Linked DNA regions of Homo sapiens. The protein of the gene in region 1 purifies or fractionates together with the protein of each later gene. This does not show direct contact. Each region holds a gene or a part of one and is shown on either strand. Other genes may lie near its edges. The genes, in order: OSBPL5, NPC1, AKAP8L, NAGLU, HADHB, PLD1 and KLHL12.

What was found.
Region 2: the proteins of OSBPL5 (region 1) and NPC1 purify together in Homo sapiens (affinity purification with western blotting, with the first as the bait; one study listed by BioGRID). This does not show direct contact.
Region 3: the proteins of OSBPL5 (region 1) and AKAP8L purify together in Homo sapiens (tandem affinity purification; one large-scale study listed by IntAct). This does not show direct contact.
Region 4: the proteins of OSBPL5 (region 1) and NAGLU purify together in Homo sapiens (co-immunoprecipitation; 3 studies listed by BioGRID and IntAct, with this or other methods). This does not show direct contact.
Region 5: the proteins of OSBPL5 (region 1) and HADHB purify together in Homo sapiens (co-immunoprecipitation; one large-scale study listed by IntAct). This does not show direct contact.
Region 6: the proteins of OSBPL5 (region 1) and PLD1 purify together in Homo sapiens (affinity purification with mass spectrometry; 2 studies listed by BioGRID and IntAct, with this or other methods). This does not show direct contact.
Region 7: the proteins of OSBPL5 (region 1) and KLHL12 purify together in Homo sapiens (co-immunoprecipitation; one large-scale study listed by IntAct). This does not show direct contact.

Annotation. Positions count from the first base shown.
Region 1 is NC_000011.10:3,099,311-3,102,810, reverse strand, and holds part of OSBPL5 (oxysterol-binding protein-related protein 5), read left to right. Parts: intron 1-529; coding exon 530-628; intron 629-1,111; coding exon 1,112-1,208; intron 1,209-2,554; coding exon 2,555-2,653; intron 2,654-3,500. UniProt on the Homo sapiens protein: Lipid transporter involved in lipid countertransport between the endoplasmic reticulum and the plasma membrane: specifically exchanges phosphatidylserine with phosphatidylinositol 4-phosphate (PI4P), delivering phosphatidylserine to the plasma membrane in exchange for PI4P, which is degraded by the SAC1/SACM1L phosphatase in the endoplasmic reticulum.
Region 2 is NC_000018.10:23,583,707-23,587,931, forward strand, and holds the start of NPC1 (NPC intracellular cholesterol transporter 1 precursor), read right to left. Parts: upstream 2,801-4,225; 5' UTR 2,638-2,800; coding exon 2,581-2,637; intron 1-2,580. UniProt on the Homo sapiens protein: Intracellular cholesterol transporter which acts in concert with NPC2 and plays an important role in the egress of cholesterol from the endosomal/lysosomal compartment.
Region 3 is NC_000019.10:15,398,489-15,401,988, forward strand, and holds part of AKAP8L (A-kinase anchor protein 8-like), read right to left. Parts: intron 3,116-3,500; coding exon 2,662-3,115; intron 2,556-2,661; coding exon 2,459-2,555; intron 2,377-2,458; coding exon 2,306-2,376; intron 1,871-2,305; coding exon 1,807-1,870; intron 923-1,806; coding exon 814-922; intron 279-813; exon of another isoform or gene 142-278; intron 1-141. UniProt on the Homo sapiens protein: Could play a role in constitutive transport element (CTE)-mediated gene expression by association with DHX9. Increases CTE-dependent nuclear unspliced mRNA export.
Region 4 is NC_000017.11:42,539,241-42,542,094, reverse strand, and holds part of NAGLU (alpha-N-acetylglucosaminidase precursor), read right to left. Parts: intron 1,146-2,854; coding exon 889-1,145; intron 1-888. UniProt on the Homo sapiens protein: Involved in the degradation of heparan sulfate.
Region 5 is NC_000002.12:26,279,439-26,282,938, reverse strand, and holds part of HADHB (trifunctional enzyme subunit beta, mitochondrial isoform 1 precursor), read right to left. Parts: intron 2,946-3,500; coding exon 2,824-2,945; intron 95-2,823; coding exon 15-94; intron 1-14. UniProt on the Homo sapiens protein: Mitochondrial trifunctional enzyme catalyzes the last three of the four reactions of the mitochondrial beta-oxidation pathway.
Region 6 is NC_000003.12:171,674,484-171,677,983, forward strand, and holds part of PLD1 (phospholipase D1), read right to left. Parts: intron 3,212-3,500; coding exon 3,083-3,211; intron 2,351-3,082; coding exon 2,232-2,350; intron 131-2,231; coding exon 17-130; intron 1-16. UniProt on the Homo sapiens protein: Function as phospholipase selective for phosphatidylcholine. Implicated as a critical step in numerous cellular pathways, including signal transduction, membrane trafficking, and the regulation of mitosis.
Region 7 is NC_000001.11:202,893,428-202,896,234, forward strand, and holds part of KLHL12 (kelch-like protein 12), read right to left. Parts: intron 2,291-2,807; coding exon 2,095-2,290; intron 1,323-2,094; coding exon 1,164-1,322; intron 856-1,163; coding exon 757-855; intron 1-756. UniProt on the Homo sapiens protein: Substrate-specific adapter of a BCR (BTB-CUL3-RBX1) E3 ubiquitin ligase complex that acts as a negative regulator of Wnt signaling pathway and ER-Golgi transport.

The DNA.
Region 1 (3,500 bases):
TGCTCTCGTTGTAGTGAGCAAGAGGGCCCGCAGCTCCCCTGACCCCACCACAGAGCCCTGGGGTTCCATGGGAAGCAAGTTTGAAAACCACGACCGTGGTTCCACTTCTTTATTGTGCAGATGGGGAAACTGAGGCTCAGGTGAAAGGATGGCCTGAGTCGTACAGCAGGTTTGGGGTAGAGGCAGGACTTCTGACTGCCTGGTGCCTTCCATGGCTTTCAGCAGGCTGTGTGCAGGTTACACCCAAGGTCCAAGGAGAGTGTGACAAGGTCAGGGTCTCGTGTCCCTTCTCCGAGCTAAGAAGTGGACAGGATTCCCCTGAGGCTGTCCCCCAAGAATGTAAACCACAGGCAAAGCATAGTCCCCGCAAAGCAGAAGTGAGGTGTTGTTCCCAGATGCTAGCAGCAAACCAGGCCAGCAGGCAGCGGGTAGCCCACCCACGCTGCCCCTCCGTCCACATCCCTCACCTGCTCTGCACAGCGGACCTCTTACCCACCTGGCTCCTCACACAAGTCTCTGTTGTCTGCAGGGAATCAAGAAGCCGTACAACCCCATCCTGGGGGAGACCTTCCGCTGCTGCTGGTTCCACCCGCAGACTGACAGCCGCACATTCTACATAGCAGAGCAGGCAAGAGCACCTCTGCTGCAACCGGCCTGGGTGCTGGGCTCTATGGGGCGGGGCTCTGTGGGGGCGGGGCCCTGGCAGCAGGCAGGGGCAAGCGTGACCCCGAGGGCCGGCTTCCAGGGGACCCCACATCCTGCACACCGGAAGGGCTGTGGACCCAGCCGCTGCCAACAGGGATTCTTGCAGAAGGTGCAGACACCACCATGACTGTGACAGCAGACAGTGTCTCCCTAGGGAGAGGACAGTGTGTCCCATCTCCCGATGGGGACTTCTGGGGCAACTCAGGGCCCGCAAGCCCCACAGCTGAGGCCTACCTGCCCTGGGCGTCGTAAGCGAGAGCCAGGAAGGCCCCTACCCGAATCCTGGGATCGGGGGAGAAGATGTGGCGTCAGGGACAGGGACAGGTTTTTTGGGGGAAGCTGGGCTCTCGCTTCCTGGGATTACCTGTTTCCGGGGCTGTTTACAGAGCCGCCTCCCTGCACGCAGGTGTCCCACCACCCGCCCGTGTCTGCCTTCCACGTCAGCAACCGGAAGGACGGCTTCTGCATCAGTGGCAGCATCACAGCCAAGTCCAGGTTTTATGGTGAGGGGGTCACCCTGGGCGCTCCCTGGGGCCTCAGGGAAATGCGATGGTCGGGAGGACTCCGGGAGCCAGTGGACCAAGATCTGGATGGGGGCCATGTGCCTGTCCCTCCCAACCCCTCCTAGTCAGAGACCATGTGGTGGTCAGGTGCTGAGACCCGGCCATGAGGCAGAGCTGCCCGCAGCTCCCCGAGCTGAGAGTGGGCACCTTTTGTAGGGACGCTGTGGGGACTGAGAGAGGGCACCTACATGGAAAGGTGCGGACTGGGGCTGAGCAGCCCCAGAGCACTGCATGACTATTTGAATTGGCTAAAATGAAATGAAACTTAGTCAAAGCATGGTGGCTCACGCCTGTAATCCCAGCACTTTGGGAGGCCGAGGTGGGTGGATCACTTGAGATCAGGAGTTTGAGACCAGACTGTCCAACATGGTGAAACCCTGTCTCTACTAAAAATACAAAAGTTAGCCGGGCATGGTGGCACGTGCCTGTCATCCCAGCTACTGGGAAGGCTGAGGCAGGAGAATCGCTTGAACCCGGGAGGTGGAGGTTGCAGTGAGCCAAGATGGTGCCACTGTACTCCAGCCTGGACGACAGGGTGAGACTCTGTCTCAAAAAAAAAAAAAAAAAAAAAGAAATGAAACTGAAACTGCAGTCCCTCTATTGCCAAATCACACAGGCTCAGTGTTGGCCCCGGAGTGGGACAGGCAGGAGGGAAGCTCTGGTCTTCAGAGACAGCCCCATTGGACTGCACTGCTCTGGGGCCTGGCAGACTTGGGTGCTCAGAAAAGTGTCCGTTTACATTTCGTCCCATCCGTTGTACCTTTTTCATCAGTTTCATCCATGGGCAGGTGTGCGCCTGTTGCCTCTGTGTGCTCGGCTCTCTGCTGGGTGTGTGGAAGTCTGGGAGGGGGTCCCAGGTGCGACCCTCAGGTTCAGCCCACCTTTCCCAACTCTGTCCTCTCCTCACCAGCAGTACCTGCGACTCGTGGCCCCAAGCGAGGCGTACTCCCTCCACAGGGATGTTTAAAATCTGAGCAGGGCTCAGTCGAGTTTGAAAAAGTTTGCAGCCTCCACCCTGCGAATCTGCAGTTTTGCGACTGCAATAAACCACTAACAAGTCAAAGGTGAAATAACTTCTCAGCACAGATGTCCTGTGCACACTGGACAAGGATTTTACAGAATCTGAGGCCCAGAGAGGTTAAGTGACTCACGCACAGACACACCACTGGAAGTGCCAGGAGCGTGTTCAGCTGTTGGAAGGAGCTCAGACCCTGTGACTTAGGGGTGGCCTCAGATGTGAAAGGGCTGTCCGCACTCACTGGTCCTGCTGTCTCTTGTCTCTGCAGGGAACTCGCTGTCGGCGCTGCTGGACGGCAAAGCCACGCTCACCTTCCTGAACCGAGCCGAGGATTACACCCTTACCATGCCCTACGCCCACTGCAAAGGTGAGAGGCTCAGCCACACACTCCGAGGGCAGAGCCAGGCTCTGTGAGAGCAGCTAGATGCTAAAACCCTTTGGTTATTTGCTTGAAGGTATCTTTACTTCGCCTTCATCTGCCCATGACTTTTTTTTTTTTTTTTTTTGAGATGGAGTTTCGCTCTTGTTGCCCAGGCTGGAGTGCAATGGCGTGATCTTGGCTCCAAGTAGCTGGGATTACAGGCATGCGCCACCACGCCTGGCTAATTTTGTATTTTTAGTAGAGACAGGGTTTCACCATGTTGGTCAGGCTGATCTCGAACTCCCGACCTCAGGTGATCCGCCCGCCTCGGCCTCCCAAAGTGCTGGGATTACAGGCATGAGCCACCGCGCCCAGCCTCGCCCATGACTTTTGAAGGTGGGTAATTCCATGTAGATGCTATTTTACTGCCCTTTGAATATGTGCGTTTTGCTTGCCTTGTGGCTTCCATTGCTGTTGGGGATGATCAGCTGTCAGCCTATTTGTTACCTAATCTGCTTTTCCCTGTAGCTGCTTTGAAGATATTTTCCTTGCCTTGGTGCCCTGTAGTCTTGCTACAGTGTTTCAAAGTTTGGATTTCTTTTTTATTTTTTCATTAACAGACTTTCTTTTTTACAGTAGTGTTGTGTTTACAGAAAAATTGAGCAGGAAGTACAGAGAGTTCCTGTGTGTCCCCTACACAGTTTCCCCTGTTATTAACATCTCACACTGAGGTGCTACATTTGGTATCATCGATGAGCCAATACTCATACATTGTTACTAACTGAGTACACAGTTCACCTTCCTTTTCACTCCTTGTGTTGCTCATTCTGTGGGTTTTGCTAAATACAGAAGG
Region 2 (4,225 bases), on another chromosome or scaffold:
GAGTGATTCTTTGTTCTGGGTAATATAACAAACACTGGAGGAATACAAAGGCCTATTCAGCGAGTCCTTTTCCCTCTGCCCACTGGCTCAAATTTAAAAAAATCTCATTTTCCCCTTGATTACTTATGTTAGTAAAATTTCTGATCACAGCATCAGTCAAGGAGTGGGAAAGATGGGGAAAGATTTCCCACAGTCATTCCAATTTCAGATGGTTGTTCTTAATCACTCACAGGTCAAAAGATTAACCATTCCCAGTCTTCTGAGGAAAAGCCATTTTAATGCTTAATTTCTACCCAGGCTTCTCTATGTTCCAAGTCCCTCAAGATAAAGCTTACCAAAATTACAGCCGGGAAAAATAAAGGCTATGTCTCAAAACTGCATATAGTTTTTAGATGACTACAGGGTTTTAAAAACAAGGCAGTCTAGTAATGTTATTACATCATCTGTACATATTGAACATTAAGAAAAAGCAAAAATCCCCCCAACATGTATTTCAGATCTTACACAGGACAACTAGTCCATAATTCCATGATAGAACTCTACTAGCGCTCAGACTGAAGCTAATGAGCTGCTATCATCGGTACGAATTCTAAAAGCAGACACACTCTCTCTCCCAATCTGTTTGGCTTCATGGCTCCACCCCAATCTGTTCAGGTGCACTGAAAGCTTTCAGACATGAGGAATTTTTAAAATAATAATAGGATTATTTCCAGTTAAGGTTTACAGACCTTGAAAAGGCCTCCAGGCATTTTTGCAAGAGACTTACAACAAACCTCTGACCTATCCCAAATGTCATAAAAGAAGCACTCATTGGCCATCAGCCTTGGGTACTTGAGATTTAAAAAATACTTAAGAGATGGCTACTTAATAATGTGAAGCCTGGCTGGGCGAGGTGGCTCACACCTGTAATCCCCAAAAGAGGAGGGCGGATCGCTAGAGGTCAGGATTTCGAGACCAGCCTGACCAACACGGTGAAACCCCATCTCCACGGAAAATACAAAAATTAGCTGGGCGTGGTGGTGGGCACCTGTAATCCTAGCTACCTGGGAGGCTGAGGCACCAGAATTGCTTGAATCCAGGAGGCAGAGGTTGCAGTGAGCCGAGATTGCGCCACTACACTCCAGACTGGGCAACAGAGACTCTGTCTCCAAAAAAAAGGGAAGCCTATTTAAGGTCCTGATCTAAAACTCTAGGAGGGGCCAGGAGTGGTGCTCACAATAATCCCAGTGCTTTGGGAGGCCAAGGTGGAAGGACTGCTTGAGGCCAGGAGTTCCAGGCTGCAGTGAGCTATGATGGCGACACTGCCCCCACGCCTGGGCAACAGAGCAAGAACCTGTCTCTAAAATAAATAAATTTTAAAAATAAATTTTAAAAAACTCTAGGGAAACAGAATAGCCACATTTTCTCTACGGCACATAATTGCTATTATTTATTTCTCTCTCTTTTTTGTTTTGACACAGGGTCTTGCTCTGTTGCCCAGGCTGGAGTACACCGGCGTGATCACAGCTCACAGCAGCCTCAACCTCAACAATGAAAAGAAAAACAAAATGTTTTTAAGACGGTGTTTCACCATGTTGCCCCGGCTGGTCTTGAACTGCTGAGCTCAAGAGATCCTCCCGCGGAGCCCTTCTCCTGGCTCTTAGTCCATTATTGGATCAACATCACCTATCCCCTTCTGAGAACTAAATAGAAGTCGAAGGAGAGTTTTTTCTAGTCCACGGAACCCCCTCTCCCCTGATTCACCACTTCCTATTGACGCCACACCTATGTGAGGGGCGTTAATGTGCACAAGGACACAATTCCCCGGAGGCACTCTCATCCTGATTTGGTTTAACGAGTCACAGCGTGACACTGCCCCACTCCAGTTTTAAAAGAGGAAACTACAGACACACAAATACTGAGGTGCTCTTTCCCAAAGCTATTAAACCAAGCAAAAGCCCCCAGAAGGAGTCAGCAGGACACCGAGTTCCAGGCCCCATCCTGTCGCTGGCTAATAGTGACAAGGGGAAATTCAATACCGCCCTGTGAGTCTCAGTGTCCTGAGGTGTAAAAAGGAGTTGATGAAAAGTAACCTGCCCTCTTTAGAAGACCAAGCTGACTTATGTCAAGTACTCAAGGCAGTTTCACCGGGTGCTTGAGGAAGTTTGTGTCTCTTTACCTCTGCTTCCACCTCCATCCTCAGGTGATGAGAAGAGGAAATAAAGTGGTTAGAGCTCCTAAATTTTGGAGTTCGTGCGCATGTAGCAGAATTTTTTAAAAAGCAAGTAGTGTCCCTATCCCACTCTACCCACTTTCCTCCCTTCTTCTGGTGCCACATCCTACACAGAGAAATTAGGTGACCACAGATGGAACAAGCTCAGAACAGGTCACCCAAGCCCCCACTGCCACCCTCTTCCAGACCACAGGAAAGAGAGCGTGGCCGGAGACAGAAACAGGACAAGTGAGGAACCTCCGAGCTCTCCATCGCCAGACCAACTTCCCCAGGACCCGGGCCTGAGCCGTCGCTGGGCCCGTCGCCTTCCCCGGCTCTCGGCCCCGCCACGTCCCCACAGGGCGTCCCGGTGGCCGGCGACCGCTCACCTGCGCTGGACACAGTAGCAGCAGGAGGAGGCCAAGGGCCAGGCCGCGAGCGGTCATGCTGTGGCCGCGCAAGGCTGCTGACGCCGGCGGCGTTCGGCTGGTTGGGCTCCCCGGAGGCGGCTCTACTTCCCCGGGCTGTTTCAGCACCCCGCGCAGGAGGAGCGGAGGAGCAGGAGCAGGCGCTGACCGCGGCAGCAGGCTGCGCGCGCCGGTCAGGAAGGAAGAAGGCGTCGTCGGCTCCGCCCTTTCTGGGAGGTGCCGCTGCCGGGACTCCCTGGCCCGGGCTGGGGCGCCGCCGCGACCCCGCTTCAAGGTCCCCGTGTTGCCCTTCTCCTCAGCCCCTGCAATCCCCGGGGGCCAGGCGCGGGACTTATGGAGTCTGGCTCGGCCCGGGAGAGTATCTGTGGAGTTGTGCCAACGGTTTCTGGCCGTGATGCTTTCCCTTTTCGTCTCTGGGTTGGAGGGGGCGGGCGAGGTTTCAGCGAAGGGTAGTGCTGTTCTGGGGGACTTCCGGGTAAGGTCCCGCCCGGCCGCGGAGTCTCTGTTTATTTCGGCTCCGACAATTACGCTGAGCGACTTCTCCTCCCAACCCAGTCACCTGAAAGGAATCTGGACCCCGGCACTTTCTAGCAGAGCCCGGGGCGGTGACGCGCGGTGGCCTGACCGTGTGACGATCCGCGAGTGCGGCGGGGCGGGGCGGGGCGGAGCGCGGGGTGGGCGGTGGCGGTGCGGCCAGGCCCGGGAAAAAAAGTGCGGGAGCCTCGCCACCTGCTGGCCCAGCTGCGCAGCGCAGCCCGTGGGCGCGAGGAAACCCCGAGGTGGGGACCAGGGTCTGTTTTAAGTTCTACGTGAAGGCAGATAAAGAAGACGCGTTGTCATTTTTGAGCCATGCGTTTGATATATGTATTTATCTTTAACTCTAGTTGTATGTGTTTCTGGTAACGTTTTCCCTCAAATTTCAAGTATTCAGACCACTCAAAAGCATCTGTCATTTCCATTTTGAAGTTAAGAAAATGGAGGTGAAGATCTCTTTCCCAACAGTGAAAGCAAATTTACGATGAAAAGACTAAACCTTCATCTGGAGCAATGACCGAACCCCTCCCCAAGGAGTCCCATGATGCAGATGACCTTCCCATCCCTATCCTATAAAGTGCTGTTTCACTTTCTGTCTTGCCTTCTCACCTCCTCAGCCCTGAGATGTCCACCTGGCTGGCCTGGCAGTGAAACTATGGGGATTTCTTCAGGACCTTCAGCCTAGGTCCTCCACGACGACCTCGTGGTCCTCAGTCAGCTCTGTGCTCTCGCTTCCCACTCCCCAGGCTCCAGCTCCTGGTGCCCCCACTGAGGATCAAGTCCTGTGTATGCCTTCATGCAGGGATCCTCAAACGGCCATCCCCAGACCAGCAGCAGGAGCATCTCCTTGGAACTTGTTAGAAATGTAAATTCTCAGCCAGGGCAATGTAGCAAGACTCCCTCTATACAAAAAAAAAATTTTTTTTAAGTTAGCTGGGCATAGTGGCACACACCTGTAGTCTCAGCTACTAAGGAGGCTGAGGCAGGAGGATTGCTTGAGCCCAGGAGGCTACAGTTGTCTATGATCATGCTGCTGCACTCCAGCCTGGGTGATAGAGCAAGACCCTGTCTC
Region 3 (3,500 bases), on another chromosome or scaffold:
GGAGTCACCTGGGCGAGGTGCTCTGTCTGGGCCTGGTGTCCACAGTAGAAGCCCGGGGTCTGGGGCCTGGGCCGGAGCAGGCCGCCGTGGCAAGGGGCGGAGGAGGCCAGCCGCCACCGAGACCTCGGGGCGGGTCCCTACCTCTGCCGGACGTCCTTATCTGGGCCACGGGGTCAGCTTTGTCTGGAGAGCCCAGGGGCCGGGCGCCGGCGAGGCTGAGGAAGGTCCAGCAAGAGCAAGAGTCTGAGGCGGAGGAGGCAAGCGCCAGTGCGGGAGCCCTGAGGGCAGACAGACCCGACCAAGGGGCGTGAAGGGCTCAGCCGCAGACAGGCCCGGCCTGACAGGGCCGGCGGGCAGGGCAGAAGGCAGGCCCGAGGCTGCCACAGCCCACAGGTGCTGCCATCTCTCCTGGGCACGGCGGTGGCCTCTTGGCAGCTAGCTGGGGCGGCACAGGCGCCTTGGACCTTGAGTCTCTGATGAGCTGGCCCCCTCCCTCAGGGGCATCAGGCCCCCAGTGCACCTTGGGGTTCGTGCGCCGAGTGACCTAGCGCCAGAGCTTCTGAGCAACGGTGCCGAGCGGTGTCAGGTCTCGGCCCACAGACGCCAGCGGTCGCCAGGCGGCCGCAGAGGGGCAGGGGATGAGTCAGGCCTTGGGAGCTGGGCCTGGCGGGAAGCAGGGTCCATGCACGGCCGAGCAGGTGGCGGCTCCCAAGGGAGGCCAGAGGGCGGCGAGCTGGCAGAGCTATGGCCCTGCTCTCCTGGCGGCAGCCCCACAGCGAGGCAGAGGCAGAGGGGTGGAGGGAAGCTGGTTACCTTTCCACCATGCGGTCTCGCTGCCGCTTTTTCTGCTTGTCCTGACTCTTCTTGCCTGCCTGCAACTTGCGCTTGGTCTGGCCATTTTCATCCTGGGTGGTTAGGGCCCCTGTGGGAGCAGATGGGCACTGTCACCAATTTGGCTCTGCCAGGACAGGGCAGGCCCTGCGGCCTCTGGCTGAATCACCCACTGTCCACTCCAGAGGGTCCATCGAGAATAGCTGTCCAAGCAAGGCCTCTGGCCATGAGCAGGGCTGGGTATCCTGGGCTGTGCAGGGAGTGGGTTTGGCCTAGGCCCCAAGGAGTGGGGGCCAGGCGATGACCCCTCCACTCTCCAGGACACCCATGCTCTCTGTGCAGTGGGCCAGGAGGAGGCTGGAAAGCAAAGAGGGGGTATCTTTGTGGGGACACTGGCACATGTTCAGAGGGGCCAGGTGGTGGGATGCAGGGAGGCTGCTCACATGGCCCTGCCCACCCCCAACCGGGCACCGCGGCAACAGTGGGCTGACGCTGGATTTGCTGTTAGGTACCTGCTGGCGCTCATCACTCAGGTGGGGGGACACGGAATCCCAACAGGGGCTGGAGAGGTGCTAAGGGAGAGGATACGCACACCAGAGCCGTAAAAACTGCACCGAGGGTCCCAGATCGGACACCAGCCACTGAGGACTTGGAACTGCGCGTTACTGAGGGACCGAGGGCAGGGGGCGTGCCTGGGGTTCCCCACACTTTTACTAGCTGCCCCCATCTGAAGGCAAAACCAGTGTGCTAGGCAGGGGTCACCACCATCCACAGCCTCCGCCTGGGAAGGAGGAGGAAGAGTGGGAAGGGGGTGGAGGCGGCGAAAAGAAAGCCCCCTGCCAGCACACACTCGGGCCCACAAGGGAGGTCCCCAACTGGCCGCATGTCTGCCGCAACCCTGCCCTCAGCTGGGTCCCTCCCACTGTGAGCCCCTGGAAGAGCCGCCCTAGCACCAGGCACCCCAGGAAAACTCACCCTTCTCTGGATCCTCTTTGCCTTCTTCTCTCCCATCCTCTTTTCCCTCCTCATCCTCTCCGTCCTAACAATTTCAAATTCCAACTTTAAAACAGGTGCCTTTTTTTTTTTTTTTAAAAGAAACCAAGTTTATTAGAGCAACGGTATATAGTAAAACAGCTGCTTGCTCCATAGACAGAGCAGGGCTATCCTATAGGCAGGGTGGCCCAGAGTAGCCCAGTTATTTACAATGGCTTTAAATGACAAGGCCCGGCTATGTGCCAGAAACCTCACATCCTCCCACTACCTGGTGCACAGGGGCTCATCCCATTTTCCAACAAGGAAACTGTGCCTCCAGCTAGGCAGCCTGTGCTTTCTGCCAGACCACACTGCCTCCCCATGCTGGTCACCATGCACGCAGAGCTGACACAGCATTGCCTCTGGCCCCCAGGGAGAGCACCACTCTTTAGGCCAGCTCGCCCTGCCTGCAGACAGAAAATGCCCAGCCAGAGCCACTTACCACTCTGGAGCCCTTCTCCACAGCCTCGGTGCCTTCAAGGCCCTCTGTGGCTTCCCCCTCGGTGCCCTCATCTGAAAGGGAAAAGGAGGTAAGCTCAACCCAGGAGTTCCCAGAGGCAGGGGGCAGCCGCCCAGTACCACCTAGTGGGCTCACCATTGTCTGAGTCGCTGTTGTCCGAGCAGTCCGTGCGGGTGGCTTTGCTATCTGGCTCATCAGGACTGCCGCCCTGCTTTCTCTTCTTCTTCTTGGTCTGGGTCATAAGGGGGGGAAGCCGTGTCAGGGTGCATGGCACCCGGCCCTTAGCTCCGCCCCAGTGGGAACTAAGCTTCCCAGAGGGGAAGGCTGCCTCCACTCACTCGGAAGTCGGCTGTGGTCCAGGTCTTCCAGGTCCGCCTCATCTGCTTCATGCCATTGCCAAACCCGAAACCAAAGCGGGAGCCGCCCGGGAAGGCGCCCCCACCTCGCATGCCCTGGAACATGCCGTACTCGGGGATGATGTTCTGGGAGAAGAGGGAGGGCAGCCGAGAGGCACCAGACATGCACTGGCCCCGGGCCCCCATGGGGTCTTCCCACATGCGCCCATAGCCTGAGGCCATTGGCCGGCCGCTCCGGGCATCCCGGGCCCAGCCCTGTGCCCTGGGACCGAAGGTGTCGTTGCCACGCATGCGGAACTGGTCGCGGTAGGCATCGTATTGGCCCTCATAGGCCATTTCCATCTCAGGGTCAAGCTCGCTGTAGTCATAGCCTGACCGGTACAGGTCGCGCTCACTCAGGACGGCCCTCGAGTCGCAGGACTCATAAGAGTCATACCTGCAGAGGCATGGGGTGAGCATCAGGTGGAGCCCCTCAGGATCCCTCACCTCCAGGCAACTGCTCCTGCCCTCCCCAATCTCCCAGTCCAGCACCCACCCTGCCCTGGTTGGGAGGCTCAATGTTCAGAAATGCCGATTAAAGAGTTCCAGCCTCTCAGCTGATATAGGGGCACCACTGCCCCAAACTTGAATGTAGCCACACACTGGCTTGGGGACCCTAAGAAGGACTGAAGGACTGATAACTGGGGTGGAGGCTCTAGTCCAGTGAGTCTCAACAAGGGGCAGAGCTGCTCCACAGCCCTTTGGGAACATGTACACCATCTGTGGGAGCTGCAACGCCCAAGGCTGCTCCTCACAGGGCAAGGCTGAGCACCCCAGCACCC
Region 4 (2,854 bases), on another chromosome or scaffold:
CGAGACTCTATCTCAAAACAAACAAAAATTGCCGGGCGTGGTGGCGGGTGCCTATAGTCCCAGCTACTCGGGAGGCTGAGGCAGGAGAATCGCTTGAACCTAGGAGACGAAGGTTGCAGTGAGATGAGATTGTGCCACTGTGCTCCAGCCTCAGCAACAGAGTGAAATCTGTCTCAAAAAAAAAAAAAATGTAGCTTCTCCTTCAGGTCTTGGGTAGGGCCTGAGAATTTGCCATCTCACAGCTCGGGCTGCTGCTGCTGCTGCTGCTGGTTTTGGGTCACACTTGGAGCAGTACTGCTCAAGAAAGGCTGAGCTGATCTGTTCCCTTCCTGGCCAACACAGACGCCTCTCCACTAAGTCATTCCTGACTTGGGCGCCCTCTGCTCCACTCCTCCTTTAAGTGGCAGGAAGGAGCCCTGGCTTCACAGTTTTGTAGCAGGATGCGCACTTAGTGCCTTTAGGCACATCCACTCACCTCCTGCCTGCAGTGCCTACTTCAGCAACCACGCAGAGATGAAACAAAATCCTTGTTCATAGCTAGCTCTTAGTGGCCTTTGCTCTGGGCCAGGCGTTATTCTACCTATGAGGTAGTCCCAGTTTACAGGAAAAGCAAACGAGACACTGGGAAGGAGGTCATGAGTCATAAGTCACACGGCCAGGAAATAGGAGCGCGAGGTGTGACCCAGGTTGTTGGCTTCCAGAGCTCACCTCTCAACCACAGTGGGATTCACTGAGACAACGCATGTGTACACGTGCTTGGTAAACTATGAAGTACTGTGTGTTATGGCGAGGCATTATTCCAGTCCCTCTGCCTACCCCTACTGACATCTGCTACTCCCTTCTTTTTGAGGGTCTGGGGGGCTCTCCCACCCCACCCAGGCACTGTACCTGCAGTCATGGCCTCATAGACGGCAGTGGTGGCTGCGGCAAGGTAGGAGGGCTCTGAGGAAGGTGGCTGCATCTCATTGAAAGTGTCGGCCCCATAGATGTGGTCTGTGCCAAACTCTTTGATCAGCTCTCGCAGGAAGAGGCTCCCGATGATGGGGAATATGGGGTCTTCCGGAGCCAGAAGGAAGGAGCAGGAGTAGGAACAGTTAAAGTGGCCCCAACTGCCCATCTTCGTGACATTGACCTGAGGGAACACCCTAGTGGGGAGCAAAAGCTCAGATATTTCATGGAAGCCGCCATAGTGTTCACCATAGTGTTCAACAGCCTTGCCAACTTCTCTACAGCTCCTGGTTTCTCTTGCCTCTATGGCTTTGTACAGGCTATGCTCTCTGCCTACAGTCCTTTCTTCTCCTTCCCTGGCCACCTTCTCTGAAAAACTTTCACTATCTCTCCCCTTCCTGTGGCCTGAAACAAGCAACGCTCCTTTTTCTTTCTTTTTTTTTTTTTTTTTGAGGCAGAGTCTCACTCTGTCCCCCAGGCTGGAGTGCAGTGGCGCATTCTCAGCTCACTGCAAGCTCTGCCTCCCAGGTTCATGCCATTCTCCTGCCTCAGCCTCCCTAGTAGCTGGGACTACAGGTGCCCGCCACCACACCCGGCTAATTTTTTGTATTTTTAGTAGAGACTGAGTTTCACTGTGTTAGCCAGGATGGTCTCGATCTGCTGACCTTGTGATCCGCCCGTCTCGGCCTCCCAAAGTGCTGGGATTACAGGTGTGGGCCACCGCACCCAGCTTTTTTTTTTTTTTTTAATTATACTTTCAGTTCAGTTCTGTGCAGAACATGCAGGTTTGTTGCATAGGTATACATGTGCCATGGTGGTTTGCTGCACCCATCAACCCATCATCTAGGTTTTCAGCCCCGCATGCATTAAGTATCTGTCCCAATGCTACTCCTCCCCTTGACCCCCACACCGCGAAAGGCCCCGGTGTGTGATGTTCCCCTTCCTGTGTCCATGTTGTTCTCATTGTTCAACTCCCACTATGAGTGAGAACATGAGGTGTTTAATTTTCTTTCCTTTTTTTTTTTTTTTTTTTGAGACGGAGTCTCACTCTGTCACCCAGGCTGGAGTGAAGTGGTGTGATCTCGGCTCACTGCAGTCTCTGGCCCCTGGCTTCAAGAGATTCTCATGCCTCAGCCTACCGAGTAGCTGGGATTACAGGAGCCCGCCACCACGCCTGGCTAATTTTTGTACTTTTAGTAGAGATGGGGTTTCGCCATGTTGGCCAGGCTGGTCTTTAACTCCTGACCGCAGGTGATCCATACGCCTCAGCCTCCCAAAACGCTAGGATTACAAGCATTAGCCAAGCGTCCGTCCAAGCAACACTCATTTTTCAAGGCTGGGCTCTGCCCTGAGCCCTTCCTGCCCCTCTCTCCCGGCAGAGGAGAGCGGAACCCACATATATTCCTGTCCTTGTCCCCACATTGTATCCTTCAGCCAACATATCTCTCCTATCAGGGGTAAGCCCTTGGGCACCTTTCTTGCCGCCTCCCAGGACCCAGCACAGCCAGTTCTGGCAGCCTCAGACAGCTGGACCAAGTTTATTGAATGAATGAGTGAGTTTCCTGCCACCTGGTGATGGGGGCAAAGAGGCGGGCAGGGAGGCCACTGGCATGCATTAAGTCCTACGAGAGTATGGGAGCCAGACATTAGCAGGTGCAAAGGAGGTCATGCGGGGCACTAGCAAGGCTTCCTGAAGGAGGGGAGGTCTCAGGTGAGCCTTGAAGACTTTTCCCAACCACATGTGAGAGGATGGCTGGGAAGCACAGAGGAACAGGAGGGACAAGGGACACTGGAGCACCCCTGCTGCCACTCCCAAGGGCTGCCATTTGCTAGCACTCTGTGCAAAGTCACAGATAGATCGAGAGATAATTACAAACCCTACAGCGAAGTGGGTAGAGATCCCATT
Region 5 (3,500 bases), on another chromosome or scaffold:
AACATTTACTTTACCTCAAATATGCCTTCGGCTTATAACCCATGGCCAGAGCCTTTTCCTCCGCCATGATTAACATTGCAGATGCACCATCAGTCTGAAATGTTAACCAGCACAATGTTAAAATTCTTCAGCCTGTCTGGAGGTCTTTCTCCAGCCATCTTATATATCTGTACCTGAATCTATTAACTCATTAGACTTATACAGTGATTCTATATAACAACACTTACTTCACTGTATCCATCATTAAATCATAATTCAAACATACACACGCTGACTCATTTTTGGAGGATGAGGGTAGAGAAGGCTGTTCAAAAGTATCATAATAATCAAAATGAATCAACAGAAGAGGTAACTTTAGAAATAAATGCTCATGGCCAAGCGTGGTGGCTCATGCCTGTATGCCTGTAATCCCAGCACTTTGGGAGGCTGAGGCGGGCAGATCATGAGGCAGGTGATTGAGACCATCCTGGCTAACGCGGTGAAACCCCATCTCTACTAAAAATAGAAAAACTTAGCCAGGTGTGGTGGCACACACCTGTAGTCCCAGCTACTTGGGAGGCTGAGGCTGAGGCAGGAGAATTGCTTGAACCTGGGAGGCGGAGGTTGCAGTGAGCTGAGATCGTGCCACTGCATTCCAGCCTGGGTGACAAAGCCAGACTCTGTCTCAAAAAAAAAAAAAAAAAAAAAGAAAGAACTGCTCATAATAAACACTAAACACTTATTTAAGCCAAAGTTTTTAGCTTGTGGCACAAAATATGAACCAAAATAAACATATCTCTTATTTATTTATTTTTACATTTTCTGGGCTCTCAGCTGCTTTCTGCCCGTGGCTTACAGGTCATTTTATTCTACTTATATATTCTGTAACGAGCAAACCAATGGGAGAACCAGCTGAGGACATTAGAACCACAATCTTCCCTCTTTGGATACACCCCATACATTTCTTCCCAAATGACAACCGAGAAGCTGGAGGACAAAGAAGTACTACTGAAAAAACGTCCTTTACCATACTTCAAAGAAGAAAAGCTCCCCCAAAAACTTCAGAATTCCAAAGAAAAGGAAACTATTCTTCATAATTTGTAAAATCAAAATAAGTTCTACCACATTCTGTCGTATTTTTATAACTCGGCAACCCTGAAGAGACTGTGTAGCCACCAATAGGGTGTCCATAAAGTCTGGAGACATAGGTGACCATATGGAATAAATGGTTTACAGACATTACATTAATAACAGGTTCAATGTGCCATTGTGCAAAATTGCAATGAATGTGGGGCACTAATGCAGTCCCCAAAATCCATGTATTGTGATGTGTCACCTCTGATGATTTGTGTCTCTGATTCTCACTAAATAAACCTGGACCTTTAGCATACCCTGGAAATAATCAAAAGGATTCAGATCTGGCAAGTGTAGTCCATGCCACATGGCTCTATCATCCAATTCGGTTTTGCAAATGACCAACCTAACCAGCTCTTCACCACCTGGGCTTAACAGGGTGGTGTTCCATCCTGTTGGAACTACTCCAGATTCCACTCCCCTAGCCTATCAAGAGCAGGCATTAATTAGTCATTTACCATGGGCAAATATGTCAAACATCTGCGTATGTTTTCAAGACTTTATGGCCAGGTAGGAGAGTTACATTGTAAGAGAAACTCTGACCAGATGGCCTATATCCAGAAGACTATACCCAAGGTGGTAAGAGAAGAGAAATCACATCTTACAAGCAGCAGCAGAATCAATAAAGATGTTTAATTGAGGAGTCAGAAAAGCATGGAAGGATATGAAGCTACATGTTGATAAGTTAAAAAAAAAACACAAAACAAACAGTGGTAGATTTGTTCCATGATGCTTACAGGAAAATAATATTGGGGTCAGTGTAAAGCAGTTTTCTAACAATCAGGGCTGGAAGAGGTATCCTGTTACTCTTTCTGCCTGCTTTTCCTTGTCTTCTGCGACTTCCCAGTTCATACCTTATGCTCCAACCTAACTTTTCCCCAAAGAACCCCTTGCTCTCATACTTCCTTGATTTTGCATTTGCTATTCCCTTTGTCCAAAATGCCTTTTTTTTTTTTTTTTTTTTTTTTTTTTGAGATGGGAGTTTCGCTCTTGTGCAGGCTGGAGTGCAATGGTGCGATCTTGGCTCACCGCAACCTCCACGCCTCCAGGGTTCAAGCAATTCTCTTGCCTCAGCCTCCCGAGTAGCCGGGATTAACAGGCATGTGCCACCACATCTGGCTAATTTTGTATTTTTAGTAGAGACGGGGTTTCTCCATGTTGCTCAGGCTGGTCTCGAACTCCTGACCTCAGGTGATCTGCCTGCCTCAACCTCCCAAAGTGCTGGGATTACAGGCGTGAGCCACCGCACCCGGCCTGAAATGCCTTTTAAAATCCTTCCTGAGTTGGCTTTTACTCTTCCTTCAAGATTTGCTGCTCAAGTGTTACCTCTTCCAAGAAGACTCTCTGACTGTCCCCCCATCTGGGTCAGGGGTTCGACCTAAGCCTTACAGCCATCACAGCATCTCACTATATTGCAATTGTCTATTCTTTTCATTTCCAGGGCCCACCATAAGCAATAGAAGTTTTTGACTGGTTAAGTGCCTGAAAGGAAGAGCTTTTGTGGCAGAATGGTGGCTGGATTAGGTGACTTCTCGGGCCTTAAAACCGTGATTCTATTTTTTTTTTAATGACTCCACTTTCACATTAAAATGAATAACTATATTTTTAACCCTCTATTCATAACACACACAAAAAGTTATATTAGGCTTTTCTACAGAGAGTACAGAAATAGAAAAGTCACTACTAAATACAAATAACATTGACAGTTACCAAGAAAGAAGAATTTGCAGCTGTCACTGTGCCGTAGGGCTTGATGAATGCAGGTTTTAGTTTGGCCATCTGCTCCAGTGAGGAAGGACGGATGCCATTATCTTTGGTAACTGTATCTTTTCCTATTAAAAAAATGAATTTTTTTAACTCTATGGAACCACAAGCCTTATATATCTTCTCCACAGAAATATGCTTTAAAAATTACAAAAACAAATGAAATATAAACCTTACCTATTCACTAGAAGGAAAGTGTTTTATAATTATCATATTATCAAATTTTAAACTAAAGTCTTAAAAGACAATTGGGAAATCATCTAAATGCTTTACTAAAAATAGGACACCCTATTTTCTTAAGACATTCATTCACAGTTGGCTATTCTATACAGAAGTCAGACGATTCAGGAATTTTAAAAACAGGCATGTATGTAAGAACTAAAATATATCAGCAAGATCTAAAAGGAGACTCTGTTTTTCTTTTTTTTTTTTTTAATTAGAGATGAAGTCTCACGCTGTTGACCAGGCTGGTCTTGAACTCCTGGCCTCAAGCGATCCTCCTGCCTCAGCCTCCCAAAGTGCTGAGATTAGTGCTCAGATCTTAAAAGGACACTCTTATAGAAACATTAAAAAATGTTAACCTATTGTTACAACATAAATCAAAATTTGCATCCATATTTAAG
Region 6 (3,500 bases), on another chromosome or scaffold:
GCCAGAACTTACTTACCTGTACGTTAGCATGGACAGACCCAGGCACTTGATATCTCAACTCATGGGCTGTTGTTTGAGACTTTGGAAGCAGAAAAGGATAAGAAAGGGACCGATATTTTGATTTCATAATCTAAAATAAAGAAAAAGGATAAAATATTCAAATGAGAAAAAAGATTCATTCTCCCTACTTTGTGATTATAAAAGAAATTCATGCCCAGGTGCAGTGGCTCACGCCTGTAATCCCAGCACTTTGGGAGGCCAAGAAGCGGGGATCACTTGAGGTCAGGAGTTCGAGATCAGCCTGGCCAACACGGTGAAACCCCCATCTCTACTAAAAATACAAAAATTAGCCAAGCATGGTGGCGGGCGCCTGTAATCCCAGCTACTCGGGAGGCTGAGGCAGGAGAATCACTTGAACCTCGGAGGCAGAGGTTGCAGTGAGTCGAGATTTCATCATTGCACTACAGCCTGGGTGACAAGAGTGAATCTCCATCTCAAAAAAAAAAAAAAAAAAAAGAAAAAGAAAAGAAAAGAAATTCAGGTTAATTTGAAAAAGAAAAAGAAAAATGTTAATGGTGGACATTTCTAAGTGAAGGGCTACAGATTATTTGTGTTTGTTTTCTACTTCTCACAGTCCTGTTTTTACCTTTTGTAGGGGAAATATTGTTTTATATTTGTAAAGACAGGTTAAATATAATCTGTAGTTACAGAACTTTATAATTGCAAAAATGAGACTATTGTTTTATAAACTAATTTTTTACTGATTATGTTCTAGATATCTTGTCACAGCAATATAGTGGGATATCATTATTTTTAATAACTTCATAGTAAAATGGTATAAAAGAATCATTTGTTTAATAAATTCCTATTAGTAAGGATTTCTGTTATTTCTAATTTTATTTGAATTATTAGAAGCCATATCAAAATAAATTACCTTATTGGATTATGGCTTTAGTTTGAATACCCGGAAATAGTTTTTCTGGATCAAAGATTGCATACTTTAAAAAAGACTTATTGGTGTTGTACAAATTTATCCTCCCTGGGGTAGCATGTATGAGCACACCACAAAAACCACCCCAAACCTAACTACAGGTATCAGCAGAGACTTTTATCTTTGCCAGTATAGCAGGTTAAAAGTAACACCCCATTTGTTTATTCATCCATCTCCCCTAAATTTTTGTTAAAAAATTTCAATTAGAATGTCCACTAAATTTTTATAATCATTATGTGAATGAAAAACAAAGTTAGACTCTAAGTGGTTGATAAAACTAAATTCTTTTTCCAAACGACCAAGGGGAATCATGACTCATTATCCCTTCAAGTAAATAAAGTGAAACTTTAATAACACCTGAATATGTACTTTTTTTTTTTTTTTTTGAGACAGAGTCTCGCTCTGTTGCCTAGGCTGGAGTACAATGGAGTCCTCTCAGCTCACTGCAAACTCCGCCTCCTGGATTCAAGTGATTTTCCTGCCTCAGCCTCCAGAGCAGTTGAGATTACAGGCACCCACCACCATGCCCAGCTAATTTTTGTATTTTAGTAGAGACAGGTTTTCACCATGTTGGTCAGGCTGGTCTCGAACTCCTGACCTCAGGTGATCCACCAGCCTAGGCCTCCCAAAGTGCCAGGATTACAGTCGTGGGCCACCGTGCCTGGCCTGAATGATACGTACTTAACTTATGAATGTTAGGTTTGAATGTTATGTCAAGTTCTTACAAGTAATGAGGACACAATCTGGATAAAAGGAAAATGGCCCCACCTTCTTAATACTTCTTGGTTTGCTCAGAACCAGCTCTCAGAATCCTGTACCAATATAAACCCAGTGCAATTCCAGTCCCATCCAACTGGATGGGACTTTAAAGCTCAAGCCCTCTCATCTAAACCAGGCTCCTATCCCCCTATAACAGCCCTGCAAATGACTACCGAGCCCAGGCTACTAAATGCTTAGTCAACACTGTGTCCAAGATGTTAACAAGGTTAAAATCAGGACCCACACAGCAGCACCTGTCCCTAGGCACTCTGAATTGTCTATGGTGTGGACATTCGGGAATGTTTCCCTTTTTTTTTGCCCAGATGCCCAGGCACCCGGACATCAATGCAGCCAACAGCAGAGCAGTGACACAGTTGTGGCCACAACAGTCTCTTCTTGCTACCAGCCTCCTCTAAACCTCTTCTCTAGTTAGGCCTGCCTCTCTTCATGTGGATAAATCATGATAGCAACATCCAAGTACTTTTGTGAAGTTCCAGCGCTGGATGAAGTGACGTGCCACATCACGAGCCGCCTTCCCGTGGACTGCAGAGGCAATGTCATGCCAGGGCATCCGGGGCGTGGAGTACCTGTCAATGAAATCTGCCCGGGTGCACCAGGCAAGGATCAGTCATTAACTTCAGTGTTGGGGCAAAGTCTCTCTGACTCCAACTATGAAACTAAAAGGAAACGTGGGTTAGTGCCCACTAGGTATATATTTCTTGGCTTGCATAGAACAACATTTTTATAATCAAGGGAAACAGATTTCACATTCAGGGACATAGTCTCCCAGGCACTTCCCCACATATGTTTCCGTTTCACTTAGGATTAGATAATCACTAGACATGGCAAGATGTGAGTTGGTACAAATTATCTAAGGCTGTGTATTTGATATTATATTTTTTATTTTTTATCCTGTTGAAACAATGGCAGGCAATGCCATCTCTATCTCCTCTTAAACATATAAACCCAGTGATAACCTGAAAATATGCCATTCTAACGCTGGAAATGCAGGAAATAAGCAGAATAGAAGATGATCAAAGGGAGCCTACCATTTCCTGAAAAATTACTGATTATTGCCCCCAAAATATGCCTATAAAAATCTGGATTTTTCAGACAGTTCAGCTCTATTTCATGTTCTTTTCTTATTATAACTGAAAAAAAAGTCCTTAAGCACATGCTAATGACTAAATCTAGTCTCCAAAGTTTTAAAAAATTTTCAAAAATCAACGGAAGCAAAACAAAAGGCATTTAGATCATGCACATGTATACTTGCTGAGATGTTCAAAGGTAAAAGACAAAATATAACCAGCACCCCACCATTATGATACTCACCAGCAAAAGGTTTATCAAGTTGAACCCAGTCTTTGAAGACGAAATTGCAGTAGTCCTTTCCATGCCAGAATCTGGTTTCCCCATGCAGCTCTCCCACACCTGTCTGTAAACTACGGATGGACCCGGTATCTGTGAATGCAGCAAGACCCCCTCAGAGACTGTGGTTCAGGTGAGTCCCAGAAAGGGAGGCTCAACTCTCATTTATTAAACACCTAAAAGCTTCTTAATTTCTTAAGACACAACTAGGGTGGCATCTGTCCATTCTATTACAGGCTGTGGGCTAACAAGGTTTTACAGTCCTTACAAGTTTACTTTTAGTGGGCAGTTAGGGCTACAACAAGATTCATCATTAAACAATGAAATTTGACCTTCTCAGGCAGTTGAGTAACTTATTTCCACCACCTACCAGATCACTGGA
Region 7 (2,807 bases), on another chromosome or scaffold:
GGGGAAAATGAATGCATTAGCAAATGTATGGTACTAAGCCTAGAATCTGAATTATAGAAATAAACTACGGTCACTAATGACTAGCTGAGTTCTACAGTAGATGAGGGATATGGAATGGGCCCACACGGGCCTAGAATAATCTAGTCCAGCACAAGTTATTCCATCTATAAACCCTTTGGCTTGGACTTGAAATGATAAAAGATAAATAATAAAAATGGTTCTCTTCTTTACTTTCATTAACTCAGAGCCCAACCCTTCTAATTAGGAGAAAGGGAGGAAGTGAAAAAAAGGTGGCAATAAAGGTAGATGGAGGGAAAGGAGTTGTGATTATGGTTCTGAAGCAATTTTTACCCAGAGTAAGTAAACTAGAACAGCACAGTGCTCTCTCCTTTTCTATATCCCAGCCTGCTCCACTTCAAAAAGCTCTTGGTGAAGGTAAGTAGCTACTCTTTTGTCCTTATGCATTAGAGACTTTATTTAACAGATATTTATTAAGCATGTACTACACAGGCAAAATTGTACTAGATATTCTAAAACGTAGGGAGAGAACAAAGACATGAAGGCTTTTGCTTTCAAATTTATAATCTAGTTGTAAGTATCAACTGTCTTTATCCTAGTATTTAGAGAAAACAGAGACAAGGAGGAGAGCAGAATCTCATTTTTACATTAATCTACGGTTTGTCCCATGCACCACCATTATATATGTAAAGGTCTGACAGCATCGCCTATTGTCCCCTCCCTCAGATCTGGTCTTACCAGAACGCTTGGTGGCCATTGGTGTAACATTAGTCCAATGTCCTGTATGAGGGTCGTATTTCTCAACTGAATTTAAGATATTCAAGCCGTCATATCCTCCTGGAAGACAGAGACCATTCCAGAAAGAGTGGTAAATCCTCATGCCCATTCCTGGTCGGTTTTTTTCTGAGTGCTTCAACTAATTATTTTAGTTTCAATTTTCCCACAAGAGTTCCAATAACTCTAAGAGAAATCTGACATTATGCTTATAAGAAAAAGATAATCCCAATTAATGGAAAATATATTAAGACACACCAGGGTTTTAGTTGAAGGGAAGTCTATGAACGTCATTTTGGTAAAAAGGAATCCTTACCCACAGCCCATTACCCATTGAGTTCCCTCCCATTCCTGCATCCCAGACTCAATACCTAGACAGTAGATCACTCCACTGGCCACTACGAGTCCGGCACCTTCCCGGGCTGTCTGCATATCTCCCAGCATGCTCCACTGGTCAATGTTTGGATCATAGCGCTCCATACTGGTGTGACGCCTGCTTCCATCAAAGCCTCCAGAGACATAGATCATATCTGCTCAGAATAAACAAATTACAGACTATTAGAGAATGAGAGATTTCTAAGAACTCTTTCCTCTACAAATTTTCCAAGGGTCCTTTAAAAGTCTGAGAGCAAAAACAAAGTATTTTTAAATGAGATAAGTCAATTAAGTTTTATAGACAAGGAAGACATCTAAAAAGAATGGGGTAAAACAAAATCCTTAAAAGCATTCAAAGACCACCTAGGAGTTTGCAAAAACACAACTAGTGCCAGTTCCCCACCCAGCACATTGGAACTTGATTTGCCAACTTTGTAGTCAATAATGAAACATCCATGAATATTGAACAGCTTCTATTACACTGATATTTCTGAAAGCAAAAAGGAGTATTTGTCGGCTGGGCACAGTGGCTCACACCTGTAATCCCAGCACCTTGGGAGGCCGAGGTGGGTCAATCACTTGAGCTCAGGAGTTAGAGATCAGCCTGGGCAACATGGCGAAACCCCATCTCTACTAAAAATACAAAAATATAGCTGGGCATGGTGGTGCATGCCTGTAGTCCCAGCTACTCAGGAAGCTGAGGTGGGAGGATCGCTTGAGCTTGGGGAGGTTGAGGCTGCAGTGAGCCGTGATCACACCACTGCACTCCAGCCTGGGCAACAGAGAGAGACCCTGTCTCAAATAATAATAACATTTGACCTTAATTTTTTCTCCGTATTTCATGCTCCTGCCAGACAACAGGAGAGGTTAAAAACCCTGGTCCAGCCACAGTAAGATGGAAATAATTGCCCTGCACATCCAGCCTACCTCCCAGGGTGGTGGCTCCAGCAAGACCTCGTCGGACATTCATAGGGGCCACAGAATACCAGACCCCATCCTCATCTGCTGTGTAGTCTAGACATTCCACTGAACTAAGGCGGGAACGGCCATCATAGCCACCAATGACGTAGATCCGGTCATGAAGGGACACTGAGGCCACATAACGTCTCTTACGAGTGATGCTCTATGGATTTGGAGAGAAGAGGTACAGAGCATTTCAGTTAGGCAAGTTTTGGGCCTTACCTTTTGCTATCTTCCCTGTTGTATCTGCACACCTCTCTGCTTCTTCACCTGTCATCATGAACCCTCCTTAAGTGGTTCATCCTCAAGTGGCTCCCAAATAGCTACCTACTGAACGAAATGCCTGTTGTGGTGCTCTTAAAGATACAAGCTTTCTGCATCTCTGCCTCTTTCCAAGGCTTCCAAAAGATTTAACAGCTTTCTGTTATCCAATATCTGACTCCTTTCTCTTCCATAAGGCACTGGGCTAAGAGACTGATATCCTTCCATAAAGTAGAAAAGTATTCCCACATTGCTAATCAAAGGATGAGGATTTATTATAAGAACCTTAAAAGGTAGGAGGGTTGGATTTCCATGTTTTCTCAGAAATTACTATTGTTCATTCAGCACTGAGAGACATGCTGAGGGAGACAGATACAAACTTTTTTTTTCTGAGTTGGGATCTCACTATCACCCAGGCT